Homo sapiens: one gene and its partner. The protein of the gene in region 2 interacts with the protein of the main gene of each other region in a pairwise test. Each region holds a gene or a part of one and is shown on either strand. Other genes may lie near its edges.

The links.
Region 1: the proteins of AP2A2 (region 2) and AAGAB interact in binary tests that used the Homo sapiens proteins (3 or more experiments, as listed by UniProt).

The regions. Positions count from the first base shown.
Region 1 is NC_000015.10:67,202,640-67,209,661, reverse strand, and holds part of AAGAB (alpha- and gamma-adaptin-binding protein p34), read left to right. Parts: intron 1-117; coding exon 118-200; intron 201-1,003; coding exon 1,004-1,100; intron 1,101-5,513; coding exon 5,514-5,618; intron 5,619-6,064; coding exon 6,065-6,114; intron 6,115-6,763; coding exon 6,764-6,841; 3' UTR 6,842-7,022. UniProt on the Homo sapiens protein: May be involved in endocytic recycling of growth factor receptors such as EGFR.
Region 2 is NC_000011.10:928,579-936,115, forward strand, and holds part of AP2A2 (AP-2 complex subunit alpha-2), read left to right. Parts: intron 1-4,946; exon of another isoform or gene 4,947-5,019; intron 5,020-7,537. UniProt on the Homo sapiens protein: Component of the adaptor protein complex 2 (AP-2). Adaptor protein complexes function in protein transport via transport vesicles in different membrane traffic pathways.

The DNA of each region.
Region 1 (7,022 bases), on a different chromosome or scaffold from region 2:
TATATATGTAGTTAGAACTTTGGTAACAAATAAGTAGCCTTTGTTTCATCATCATAGCCATTTGAACAGTTTAAAATGTAAATGACAAATTTCACTAAGTGTATTTTTCCTTTTCAGATAGGAACCAAGGCTTTAGCCTTCTCAACTCATTGACTGGAACAAACCATAGCATTGGGTCAGCAGATCCCTGTCACCCAGAGGTAAAGGTTTTTCTTGGATCTTTTTTCCCTCTTTGGCTTTAATTTCTCCTTGTCATTATGAATCTTGACACATTCACCATTGTTTTCCTTTCCATTTAAAAGGTGACAGAGAATGTTAAAAATAGATGAAAGGAAGGTCTAAAACAGCCCTTGCTAAAGCAGTAAGCCCTTTCAAGATGTTTACAGCTTTGGTTTTATTTTTACTAGGGTGCTTTCTAAAATATGCTAGGATTTCCCTGAGGCATTAATTTGCCTTCAGATCTTTAAATAGAAAATAAAATTCATGGTGCTTTTTTAGTACTTCCTGTGTAAAAGACCTTGGCAAATCTGAGGCAAGGTCCCTGTCCTCAATGAGCTTGTAGTCCAGTTTCAACCCTGCATCCTTAAGAACTTTGTTCCAGGTTTACCTTGGTCAGCAGCTGGAGCCAAGAGCAAATTATACAGTGCCACATTGTCTTTCCAGGGATCTTTTTCAACAGCCTCTGAGCTATTTGTGTTACGATTGTGTTACATTTTCACATTTTGAATATAACATGGATCTTAAATGAGACAAACAAAAAACATGTTTTAGTAGTCTAAAGCAAAATCAACGCTTTCTAGTTCTTCCTTGGGGGAAAGTACTTCTGGGTTAGTTAAGTTTTAGCCTTTTATTTTTTTAATGTGATCTTGCTCTTCTTTCTTTGCCTCCAGTTCCTATTACTCTTTTCTCAAGCCAACCAAGGACTGAAAGTGTGAGCTTTTTTGGATTTAGTTCTGAAATAGACTACGATTAAATTGTTGCTTATGTGTATTTTCCTCAACAGCAACCCCATTTGCCAGCAGCAGATAGTACTGAATCCCTCTCTGATCATCGGGGTGGTGCATCTAACACAACAGATGCCCAGGTTGATAGCATTGTGGGTAAGTTCCTCCTTTGGCTGCCAAGAGAGAGCTTTGTGCAACTTGGAATAGGTATCTGGGCAGAAATTGTTGAGGGGGAAATTGACTTTAAACACAGAGAAGGGAAAAAAATTGGTAGTATACCACACATGAATGTGAGCCTTGCCAGTGGCTATCAGAAAAAGGAAGAAGAATAAATATATAACAAATATGTGGGTACCATTTTCTCTTTAATTCTCCTAGCAGGATCTTGATTCAGATAATCTTAGCCAAGGCAGACCGAACCAGGTGGCGAAACAGCTAGCTCTGTATCACGTAGTTTTTTCATAATATTTAACAGAAGTCAGAATCGATGGTGACAAGAATAATACAACTTTATATTTATAAGCCCTTCCATATGCTTTTAAAGTTATTTTATATCCCCTTTCTCATTTGGTAATGAAGTTTTGCAGAGAAGTTTAATAACTTGTCCAAGGACATCTAGCAAGAAGGGCCTGGAGCTGAAGCTGGAATCCAGTATGCTGTCCAAAAGCCAGAAAACCAAGGAGCTTACTTGACAATAACTATAAATCTTCTTTCGCTGGGGAACTACTGATATTCCTACTTTATCTTTATGCTACAGACGGCTCATGTGCAGTAATAAATTTTTAAAACTCTTTTTTCTTATGAGATAATTCATGTAGAAAACTCAAGTGATTGGTTATAGAAACATATGAAGAAGAAGAAAAAATTATGTATAATTTTTTTTCTTTCCAGTTTATTCATCCTTAGCCTCTCAATTGAATCCTTCCCATTGGCTTTTAAACCTGCCAGAGTCTCTGCCATTAAAACAAACTAGTAATCACACTGAAGTGGGTGGGGACTTGAAGCACTAACCTAAGTAACTTTAGAAAACAGTAATTGGACTAGATACCGTAAGGCTAAAAACAAAAATAACTGAACACAGATACTGAACTCTACTTAGTAAATTTGTTTCTTATAGGAGCATGGCTCAGCAATTCTGAAATTTTATATATAGATATTTTATACACCACACATATACTGACATATAGAAAATAAAAAATATAGATAGTGAGAGTTAGGTTTCTCACTGCCAGAGGAAAAAGGTTACAAATAAGGAAAAGGGAAGGCCAAGATGTACCCTTTGGTACTGGATTGGAATCTAATGTATCAGTATGAACTCATGGCTTTAAAAATATACTTACAGTTAAGAAAATAAATACAGATGTGTGTGTATATGCGTGTATTAGTATACACACATATATTTCCTAGTTCTGTCCACTGAGAGGCCTAGAAGCAACAATACCACCATAGCAGTGGACACACTTAGCACTCAGATCTTGCTTTCTTTTTGTGTGTGTGTGTTGTTGTGTTTTTGTTTTTGTTTTTGTTTGAGATGGAGTTTCGCTCTTGTTGCCCAGGGTGGAGTGCAGTGGCACGATCTCGGCTCACCGCAATCTCGCTTCCTGGGTTCAAGCGATTCTCCTGCCTCAGCCTCCTGAGTGGCTGGGATTACAGGCATGTGCCACCACGCCCAGCTAATTTTGTTTTGTGTTGTTTTTTAGTAGAGACGGGGTTTCTGCGTGTTGGTCAGGCTGGTCTCAAACTCCCGACCTCAGGTGATCCACCTGCCTCGACCTCCCAAAGTGCTTGGATTACAGGCGTGAGCCACTGCGCCTGGCCAGATCTTGCTTTCTAAATACCATTCTCCAATAAAAGGAACTAGGGCTCCTTGGAGAAGTGGTTGATTCCAGGACTTGGGCAAGAAAAATACAGGATGACCCTGGAGCATCTCTTGGTACCAGAAATTAAGAAAATTCTCAAAAAAGAATGGGGACATGTTGAAAGGGCATAGGGACCAACCTGAAAGAGCTTCCAGTGGCTAAATCTGGAACAATTTGACCAGCAAAGTAGATTAATATAGTATTGGGTTATAACCCATAGAGTAAGCTAAGTATCCATGAGTTCATACTAATATAAATAAATAATTGAATAAACAAATGAGAAAGAAAGGACAGCATCTCCTTCCAGAAGAATCCCAAGTAATAAATATAGAAGGAATGAGGAAAATAGAAAGCCATCATTAGGCACAAAACACAGTAATAGTTCTTGGTAGCATAGGTGAAAGTTTGAGGAGAAGTAGTATATCTGCATAGTCTAAAAGTATCTCTCTCAAGATGTTTATTTATTACAAAGGGGAAAATAGTAACTTTACACTGGAGAAACTCATCAGATGCCAGCCACTTTAATTATGTAATGAAGGTTAACATCACTGGTAATAAGACATATTGACATAATAGCCCTCCTGATAGGATGCAGTGAGAAGGTAATCTCACCAAAAATGCATAACTGCAATCTAATAATAAGAAAACAATCTGACAAACCCAATTAAGGGACATTATACAAAATAACTGACATACAAGTGTTAAAGTCGTGAAAGACTGAGGAACTGTCACAAATTGGAGAAGACTAAGGAGATTTGACAACTAAATTCCATGTAGGATCTTGGAACAGAAAAAGGATATTAGTGGAAAAACCGATGAAGTCTATGGCATGGTTAATGGCATTATACCAATATTAACTTCTTGATTTTTATAATTGTACCATGGTCATAAACGATGTTAACACTAGGGGAAAGTGGGTGAAGAGCATATAGAAACTCTGTGTACTATTTTTGCAAGTTTTTTTTTAAGAGTAAATTAAGAAAAAGATTTAAGGCAAAACCAAATCAACAAAAACCAAACATTTCCACATCTTCCTCCTTATCTCTTTACTAAACTTGTTTCCATTCCTCACCTCCCATTTGCTCCTCACCTCACTCATGTCTGTCTTTTGCCCCTGGTATGCCACTACAACAGCTCTGTGCAAAGGCCAGCAATGACCTCCATGCCGCTAAATCGGGTAGATATTTTCCAGTCCTCATCTTGACCTCGTGGCAGCATTCAGTGTTACAGATCAATTCCTCTTTGAAACATTTTCTTCCCATGCCTCACCCAACACGGTGTCGCCTGGTTTTCTTCCTACTTCTCTGATTATTCCTTCTCTTTCTTTGGTAGATACCCTTCTTTACCCAGCCTTTAAATATTGTCATTCTTCATTGCTGCATTTAAACTCTTCCAAATCTATATTTAGGCATGGAGTGATTCTGTCTACATTAACAGCTCAATTACTATGTATACACAGATAAATCACAAACTTTTATCTTCAGCCCTATATACCAACTTCCTACATGACATGTCCATTGAACGAAAGCAAATATATTAACCAAGATGCGTTTTTAACACCAAATTGTCTATATGGCATTGTGATAGATGCAAATAATTATAAGTCATCATCCTATCTTCATGGAGCTTAGTCTAAAAATATAGAGATAGGACCTATAATGTAATGGTTAAGGTCATAGTCATTGGAGTCCTGTACAGCTGGGTTCAAATCATGGCTTTATCGCTAGTAATGGCCTTACCTTGAATAAATTAACCTCTGTTGGCATTAGTTTCCTCTTCTGTAAAATAACGGTGATAAATCTTTCCTCATAGGGCTGTTGCAAAGATGCAGTGGAACCATGTAAGTTAAAGCATTCAGTGGTGCAGATCCAAAGCAAATTCTCTCTTATGGTAGTAGTACTTATTAAAGTAGTGGTGGAGAAATGTTAGAATACAAGGTAATATATGCAAGTGCTAAGACAGTTCTGGAAACAATAAGTGTAGAAAGAATTCTAAGGAAGGAGACCTGTGAAAGTGGGATGGGCAGGGAAGACATTCTAAACATAGTGGGCCTGGAGTGGAGAAGGAGTTAAAATTCTGATTAAAAACAAACTTTAATAAAGAAGCAGTGTGCCAAGGTAGAAACAGTAAAAGATTTGTAGTAAGAAAATATGAATTTAAATCAGCTCTACCTCTGAATAGCTGTAATTTTAGATGAGTTCATTTTTAGATACAGGTTTTTTTTTCATATCATTTCTGTTATTCTCAGATAATGTTATCTGTTCTAATCACCTTTTATAGTGGTTGTCGGTAATAGATGTGAAAATATTTGTTGTACAGTAAAATATGGCATAAACTTTAGTCATTATTGGTGAATCAGTGTACCTTAGTGGAGTGAGTATGCTTTCCGAGTTGGAAACACCTGCGTCTGAATCAACTTACTAGCTGTCACCTCGGCAAGTCACTTCAACTCTGAGATGTGGTTTTCTCATCTTTAAAATGGAAATAGTACTCCTTACCTCATGACGATGTTGTGAGGATAAAATAGTTACTCTTCATTTGTGAGGGCCCACTAGCAGCCAAGCAGGGTGAGCCATGAGCTGTAAAGCTGGTATACACTGGGCCTTCGATCATTGGTGACTTCATCAAGGTTAGCATTTGCCTTAGGATTCTCTGAGTGTAGCACATATGCAAATAACGTGACAGATAATGTGACAAATCCCTATTTCAGATCCCATGTTAGATCTGGATATTCAAGAATTAGCCAGTCTTACCACTGGAGGAGGAGATGTGGAGAATTTTGAAAGACTCTTTTCAAAGTTAAAGGAAATGAAAGGTAATCAGATCCATTGTGTCTAATATGTTCCCATGTTGATGCTTGTCTGTTTTACGTAGTAGCATTTTATTTTGTTAACTGCTGGATTGGATTCCTTGTTCTGGTCTCAGCTGTCTTGAGAAACTTAGCTACTCCTGGGACTTGGTAAAAAAAAAAAATTCCCTGGGGAAAATTTTTCCATCTTCGTTCTCTTTCTTTTTACTTTTCCTGCTTTTGCCTTGTTTCTTTCAATGTGTTACATAAGGTGGAAACTGTAAGATCCCTACCAATTTACTCACATCATTCCCATCTGGAAAATTTGGAAGACTTAAAAACTTCCTAATACATGTAATGACTACATCATAAACATGTCTTTGAAACCCGTCTCCCATCTTCTAGTGTTATTCATATACTCCAGGTTATCCTGTGCTATTAGACAAATTTCTTAAGATATATTTTCCCCCTAGACAAGGCTGCGACGCTTCCTCATGAGCAAAGAAAAGTGCATGCAGAAAAGGTGAGACAATCAGCCAGGTATTTATTGAATACCTATAAAAGGTCCAGTGCTATTATTATAATTATATATCACACTTGTGTATTTCTGAAGGGTCTTAGTGTGAGCTTTTCATTGAATATTAACTTCTAACTAATTAAATATTTATACAGTAATAGTATAGTTGCTGCAGTCAAACCAAGATTTTTCACCTGGATGGTGAGTGATGTGGAACCTTTATTGAGACTCAGGATGTTTGCCTTTCTAACTATTGGGCCAGAAAACTCTTAGTTGTTTTGTTTTATTATTACCAACACAACACATGCTATTGGCAGGAAACTTGTATGGTTGATGGTGTTCCCTGATATGTGTCATAATTTATCCTGTTCCCTTTTGGACATTTAGGTCATGTGCATTTTTTGCTTCTATAAATAACAAAGCTGTGCATGTCTTTACACATCATCTTTGTATACAACTCTAAATATATCCTTGGTATAAATTTCTAGATGTGGCGATCATGGGTCAAATGGTATTCAAGGGTTCTGATATGTGTTGCCAGAGGACTGGAGGGCAAAGTGCAGAATTTTAGGTCTCAGTCAGTTTAAGGTATGACATATGAAACAAGCTGAAATGTAGCTGTTGCCTAAAATTTGTTGCATGCTTCTCTCCACAGGTGGCCAAAGCATTCTGGATGGCAATCGGGGGAGACAGAGATGAAATTGAAGGCCTTTCATCTGATGAAGAGCACTGAATTATTCATACTAGGGTTTGACCAACAAAGATGCTAGCTGTCTCTGAGATACCTCTCTACTCAGCCCAGTCATATTTTGCCAAAATTGCCCTTATCATGTTGGCTGCCTGACTTGTTTATAGGGTCCCCTTAATTTTAGTTTTTAGTAGGAGGTTAAGGAGAAATCTTTTTTTTCCTCAGT
Region 2 (7,537 bases):
ATGTTTATAGCAGCACCAGTTGCCTTAGTTGTGATAAGGAACAATGTCTCCAGGCATTGACAAATGTGCCCTTAGGGCAAAGTTGTCCGCCGTCGAGAACCACTAGTGTATCCCATTGAATAACACAGCCCCTCCCCTGAAGGAGCTCGTAGAAGAAGGGGTGCTTAGTCCTAGCTGGGGGAGCCAGGTCTCTTTAATACGGCCCCTTTCTCGGAATCCTCTTTCCCTCATTGCTGTTGGATGGCCTCTCATCAGCTGCAGCGCCCACCATTCTCCTCCTGGGCAGTGTCTTCAGCTTGTGGTGCTGCTTTTCACCTGAGTGGCCCCATCTCCCCCACTGCCCTCTAGGGTGGCCTCTACAAGGTGCGCACCCTATCTTGCTCATCACATTTTTCCTGCTGTTCTCCTCATGGCGAGCGTCTGGCATGCGAGGTGCATGCCAGAGAAGACCTCACAAGGAAGGTGATTCTTGGGCAATTCAGGCAGAAGACCAAGAAGGTATTAGAGGAACAGCAAATAATTAATGTATATACGTATTGAGTTAATGAATGTTGGCTGGTGCCTGGAGACGGGATTGGAGAGCCAGCCAGGGTTTGAGCTGATCTGAACTTGACCTCCATGTCACAGGCAGAGGGGTCCCCGCTTCCCCTTTCCCTGGCCAGCTCTGATTTTGTGTGCTGTTTTCCTGTCATGAGAGTGAATGATAGGAGTAGTCGGGCCCTGTGGAAAGAGGACTCTGAGCCAACAGCCAAGGCTCTTGACCCTGACTCTGCCTCTTAGCAGCTGCATGAGTGGAGGCCACTGGCCATGGAGCCTCAGTTTCCACAGCGGACAGTTGAAGGGCTGGATTTTCAGCTGAAATATCATTAAAGCTGCGTGAGTGGAGGCCACTAGCCACGGAGCCTCAGTTTCCTCAGCTGACGCTTGAAGGGGCGGATTTTGAGCTGAAATATCGTTAAAGCCTGTTTCAGCTCCAAATTTGCGTCTTTCTGACCAGTTTCTTAAGTTTTCCTCCTTTAGCCTGGGCAATATAGTGAGACCCCTGTCTTTTCAAAAGAGAAAAAAGAATTAGCCAGGCGTGGTGGCACGCACCTGTGGTCCCAGTTACTCAGTGGGCTGAGGTGAGAGCATTGTCTGAGCCCTGGAGGTTGAGGCTGCCATGAACTCGGATTGCGCCACTGCACTCCAGCCTGGGCAGCCTGAGGAGCAGATTGAGACCCTGCCTCAAAAAAAAAGTTTTTCCCCTCCAAGACCTGGTGCCAGCCGGGTGCGGTGGCTCACGCTTGTAATCCCAGCACTTTGGGAGGCTGAGGTGGGCGGATCACCTGAGGTCAGGAGTTCAAGACCAGCCTAGCCAACATAGGGAAACACTGTTTCCACAAAAATACAAACATTAGCTGGGCGTGGTGGCATGCACCTGTAGTCCCAGCTACTCCGGGGGCTGAGGCGGAAGAATCGCTTGAACCCAGGAGGCGGAGCTTGCAGTGAGCTGAGATTGTGCCATTGCACTCCAGCCTGGGTGACAGAGCGAGACTCTGTCTCAAAAAAAAAAAAAAAAAAAAAAAGCCCTGTGCCAAGTATCTGAGGTAGCGGACAGGGAGCATGTGGACACTAGGATGCTCTGTTTTCACTTCAAGTAACCCACTCCCAGCAGACTGGCTTGGGGCATTACTCCTCTTAGCATAGGCAGCAATGAATATGCTCCAGGATTTGAAAAGGTGCCTCGTGTCAAGCTCTGCCCCTCAAAGTTGTAGCTTTTGTGGCTCAGGTAGTGAACTAACTTAATGTCTCCTAAAATTAACTTCATCCTTTCTGATTGACGTCAACCCAGCGGCCACTGCATTTGGTCAGCATGCATTCAGTGTGTGAGAGTTAATAAACTGTTTCTTTTTTTTTAAATTGGCATTAAAAAAATTCTAGTCCTTTTATTTAGTCCCAGTTTTAGAATTTTTTTTTTTTTGAGACGGAGTTGCGCTCTGTCGCCCAGGCTGGAGTGCAGTGGCGCGATCTCGGCTCACTGCAAGCTCCGCCTCCCGGGTTCACACCATTCTGCTGCCTCAGCCTCCCGAGTAGCTGGGACTACAGGTGCACGCCACCACGCCCGGCTAATTTTTTGTATTTTTAGTAGAGACGGGGTTTCACCGTGTTAGCCAGGATGGTCTCGGTCTCCTGACCTCGTGATCCACCGGCCTCGGCCTCCCAAAGTGCTGGGATTACAGGCGTGAGCCACTGTGCCTGGTGCCCTACCTTTCTTAATGTGGACATCTTGCATAACTACAGGACATATTCAACACCAGGAAACAGACACTGGTACACACCACCAGGCATATTCAGATTTCGTTAGATCGACATGCACGTGTGTGTGTGTGGTTCTATGCAGTTTAGCACCTGTAGCTTTGTGTAACCGGTTCCCTACCTCAGTCAAGATACAGAACTATACCATCATCACAAAGCTACCCCTTATAGCCATACTCCTGAAACTAATCTGTTCTCCATCTCTGTAATTTTGTGGGCTCAAGGATGTCATATAAAGGGAATCACATCATATGTGATCTTTTGAGATTGCTTTTTTCCCCCTCAGTACAGTCCCATCGAGGTCCATTCAGGCTGGTGCATTGATTGACATTGTATTTGAGCAAAAGATACCGAGAAAACAAAATAACTGCTGAAATTGGGGAAACAAGACCATAATTATTTGCTATTTATTCAGTTATTTTGGAACTTTCGTTTGTTTTTACACAAATGACATATCTGCAGAGGAGAGTTGTATCTAACTTAGTGAATGCATGTCTTTATGCATTGCTGTTGACATGCCAACACTAGAATATTGTTGGAGAGACACAGCACTGCTGAAAATGTTGTCAGGCTCTGAGAATTGACTGCAAAACAATCAGGACTGCAAGGAAAGGGAAGAAGTGATAAGTCCTTTTGAGACCGGTCAGTTTGCCAGGAAAACAACTTCAGGCAGGAAATGACCATTTTTATTTCTCTACATGTGGTGCTGGTGTGGTGCAGATGCTTGGAGGCGTTTTCTTTAACCCCCCCAGGTCCTCACATGAAGGGGAAACAGATGGAGAGATGTTATTAGCAAGATGGCAAAAATGAATTTCCATGGTCTTGAAGAAAGTGATACAGTTTTGCTGCAGGTTTCACGATAAATTAGAAAAATTATCAGTGCTCTGCTCATTGTGGTTGGCATAAAACTTGGTCCCTTCCATTTCTTGTTTTTTTTTTTTTTTTTTTGAGGCAGAGTCTCCCTCTGTCACCCAGGCTGGAGTGCAGCGGTGTGATCTCGGCTCACTGCAACCTCTGCCTCCTGGGTCCAAGTGATTCTTGTGCCTCAGCCTCCTGAGTAGCTGGGGCTCCGCCACCACCACGCCCGGCTAATTTTTTGTATTTTTTAGTAGAGACAGGGTTTCACTGTATTAGCCAGGATGATCTCGATCTCCTGACCTCGTGAGCCACCACGCCCGGCCAGGTTCAAGTGATTCTTGTGCCTCAGTCTCCCGAGTAGCTGGGATTACAGGTGTCTGCCACCACGCCTAGCTAATTTTTGTGGAGACGTGGTTTCACCAAGTTGGTCAGGCTGGTCTCGAACTCTTGGCCTCAAGTGATCCACCTGCCTCGGCCTCCCAAAGTGCTGGGATTACAGGCGTGAGCCCCTGTGCCTGGCCATTTCTGTTAACTTTCTTGAAATTAGATACCCTTTGAATTGTGTTTCAGTGGGACTAAAGTTAAATTTTATTTGTTCATGCAATTCCAGTTATGGAGTCATAAATTAGATATGGAGAAACTGAACACTAAATTTTAAACTCTGCTTAAACTTCAGTATAAAAATTAAACATAAAGTTATACTGATTTTCGTGCAGACGAGTGAAGATCAGCATCAGAATTGGTCAGTCTGCTTTTGCATTTCTTAAATAACCTTCACAGTTAAAAGCTCATTTTGTCCTTTTGACTGTACATTCCTAAAAAGTGCTGACTCTTAGAAAAGAATGCTCTCCTTGCATGTCTTCTTTTGCATGCTTCTGCATAATGTGTGTTCCTTAGAAACCAGTTTAGGAAATGTGTCATGGTGGCTATGGAGAGAAGGAAGGAAGTCCTTGCTCGGGTTGAATTTTTCTTGCCAAGGTTGGTGGTCACTGCTTCTGGGACACCCTGGTTCTCTTCACAGTGTTTTCCGTCTGGCTCCTCTGAAGGTCAGGATCACTTTCTTTTATGACAAGTTGAAGTGTCCTGGTGGTGAACATATTTTGTGCCAGATACTTACTATTACTTCTCTTTCCTCTTAAAATGAACTGTTACTTTTGGTAACAATCTGTGTCAAGATTTTGTAGTAGAAGAGTTCCTGGAAAGGCTGTCAGTGAAGGATTAAATGGCATTTCCTTGGCTCTTAAAAAAATCAAATACGCCGGGCGCTGCGGTTCACGCCTGTAATCCCAGCACTTCGGGAGTCCGAGCCAGGTGGATCACCTGAGGTCGGGAGTTCGAGACCAGCCTGACCAACATGGAAAAACATGTCTCTACTAAAAATACAAAATTAGCCAGGTGTGGTGGCACGTGTCTGTAATCCCAGGTACTTGGGAGGCTGAGGCAGGAGAATCACTTGAATTTGGGAGGCGGAGGTTGCAGTAAGCCAAGATTGCGCCACTGCACTATAGCCAGGGCGACAAAGTAAGACTCCGTCTCAAAAACAAACAAACAAAAAACCCCAGAAATGAACAGTTTTTACCAGGCCACATGATGTCCCAGACTTAGATTATAAAACCACATTTGCTGATTCTGGCAGCATGTTCCTTCTTCAGAACCTTCCTGACTTTAGCTTGAAAGCTGAGCTGGTTGAAACGTCTTGAAAAGCAGTATGTGCAGTTTTGTCACGAGAGAATTTCCGGGTGGGTGGGATAGGTTGAGGTGGGTGTTCCCGTGTAGAAGTGGGGGCTGAAGCTGTGTGGTAAGATGAGCTCTGTGCTTGGGACAGGGTTGTAAGGGTCTGGCCAAGACGCATAGAAGAAATAGCATGTGAGTAGGAAGCAGCCCTATTTTAAATAGCGCCCTGGAGACTTGAATTGGGAAGAGGACCAAGAAGAGTGTGAGGCAGTGAGATGCCCAGCACCAGGGTGGGAGAGGCGAGTTCCAGTGACTCGTGGGCACTCAGGAGCGGGGATGACCCCAGAGACACAGGGAGCTTGGAACCATGCTTCTGTATTCAGACATGACTTTCTGCCAGCTTTGCACGCTTTTTCCTGAAACATTGTTGGCAGAGGGGAACTTGTATCTTCTGTTCAGTTGATTCTCGATTTTAAACGTTTGTTGCCTTTTGGAGCCTGCACTTCCCCTTACCTGGTGATTGGAGTGTGGGAATGGTTGGGGGTATCAAGGCTTCAGCAGGCTGGGAAGGTGGCAGGAGCACAGGGTGCCAGGGGTGGGCTGAGGGGCTGGTGGGTGCTCCGGGATTTTAGGAGGAGTGCTGTGCCCACAGCTGCTGTGTGTCCCTGAGGCCAGGGAAGTCCTGACTCCCATGCTAGGTTCTTTCTGCCCCATGTAGCTCCCTCAGCGCCCCCACCCCGATACCTCAGGAAACTCCAGGTCGAAACTCCAGGTCGAGTGGCAGACCTCCTGCTGGGTGCGTTCTTAGGAATAACACTTCTAGCCGGGGGTTTGGGTCAGATCCTGATTCTACTCTCCTTTGTTTCCCACTTTTAAATTTTTTATATTTATATTTAAAATTTAGAGACAGGGTCTCACTATGTTGCCCAGGATGGTCTTGAACTCCTTGGCTCAAGTGATCCTCCCCCATCAGCCTCCCAGAGTGCTGGGATTTATAGGTGTGAGCCACTGCGCCCAGCCCTTTCCCACCTTTTCAAATTGTAGCCCTGTCGAGAGCCTGGAGTCTTCATCTTTGCCTGAAATTCAGACTCCGAGTTGTGATGGTTTTGTGTTCATCTCTGTGCTTGGCTTCAGGATACTCCCCATTTACCTTTCTTCTCACCCACCCTAAGCTTTGGTGTCTGTCTACGGGTTTGCTTAGAAGTGTAGAGACCAACAGCCAACATGGGGTGCCTGGCTTTTGTTTTTGCGTTGTGGGGTGTTTTTCTTACCTTTAAAATCCCTCTGATGGCAGCACAAGGGTGTAATGAGGATTAGTTATTTAGCATATCTAAAGAACTTTGAGCTCCTTAGGGCAGGCGGCACTGTATTAGGATTTATGTTTTGCTTTTTCTGTGGACCGCCTTTGTGTTTCATGTAATGTAGCTGAAATAGCAAGTACGTGTTTCTTTTCTTTTCTTTTTTTTTTTTGGAGATGGAGTCTCATTCTCTCACCCAGGCTGGAGTGCAGTGGCGCAATCTTGGTTAACCGCAGCCTCTGTCTCCTGGGTTCAAGCGATTCTCCTGCCTCAGCCTCCGGAGTAGCTGGGATTACAGGAGCGCACCACCATGCCCGGCTAATTTTTGTATTTTTGGTAGAGATGGGGTTTCACCATTTTTTTTTTTTTGAGACTGAGTCTTCCTCTGTTGCCAGGCTAGAGTGCAGTGGTGCGATCTCTGCTCACTGCAACCTCTGCCTCCCAGGTTCAAGTGATTCTCCTGCCTCAGCCTCCCGAGCAGCTTGGACTACAGATGCGCGCACCACCATGCCCGGCTAATTTTTGTATTTTTTTTAGTAGAGACGGACTTTCACCATGTTGACCAGAATGGTCTTGATCTCTTGACCTTGTGATCCGCTAGCCTCGGCCTCCCAAAATGCTGGGATTACAGGTGTGAGCCACCGCGCCCAGCTGGGGTTTCACCATTTTGGCCAGGCTATTCTCAAACTCCTGACCTCAAGCAATCCACCCACCTCGGCCTCTCAAAGTGCTGGGATTACAGGCATGAGCCACTGTGCCTGGGCGGTTTTGAATTTTTAGTAGAGACAGAGTTTCGCCGTGTTGGCCAGGCTGGTCTTGAACTCCTGACCTCAAGTGATGCGCCTGCCTTGGGCCCCCAAAGTGTTGAGATTACAAGTGTGAGCCACTGTGCCCGGCCAGTTTTTTTTTTTTTTTTTTTTTTGAGATAGAGTCTCGCTGTGTTGCCCAGGCTAGAGTGCAGTGGTGTGATCTCGGCTTACTGCAACCTTCGCCTCCCGGGTTCAAACAATTCTCTGTCTCAGCGTCCTGAGTAGCTGGGATTGCAGGCACCTGGCTAATTTTTTGTATTTTTAGTAGAGACGGAGTTTCACCATCTTGGCCAGGCTGGTCTTGAACTCCCGACCTCGTGATCCACCCGCCTTGGCCTCCCAAAGTGCTGGGAATTACAGGCGTGAGCCACTGCGCCCGGCCTATTCCTTTTTTTTTTTTTTTCCCCCAGGCGGAGTCTTGCTCTGTCTCCCAGGTTGGAGTGCAATGGCACTATCTCGGCTCACTGCAAGCTCTGCCTCCTGGGTTCATGCCATTCTTCTGCCTCAGCCTCCCGAGTAGCTGGGACTACAGGCGCCCACCACCACGCCTGCCTAATTTTTTTTTTTTTTATTTTTAGTAGAGATGGGGTTTCACCGTGTTAG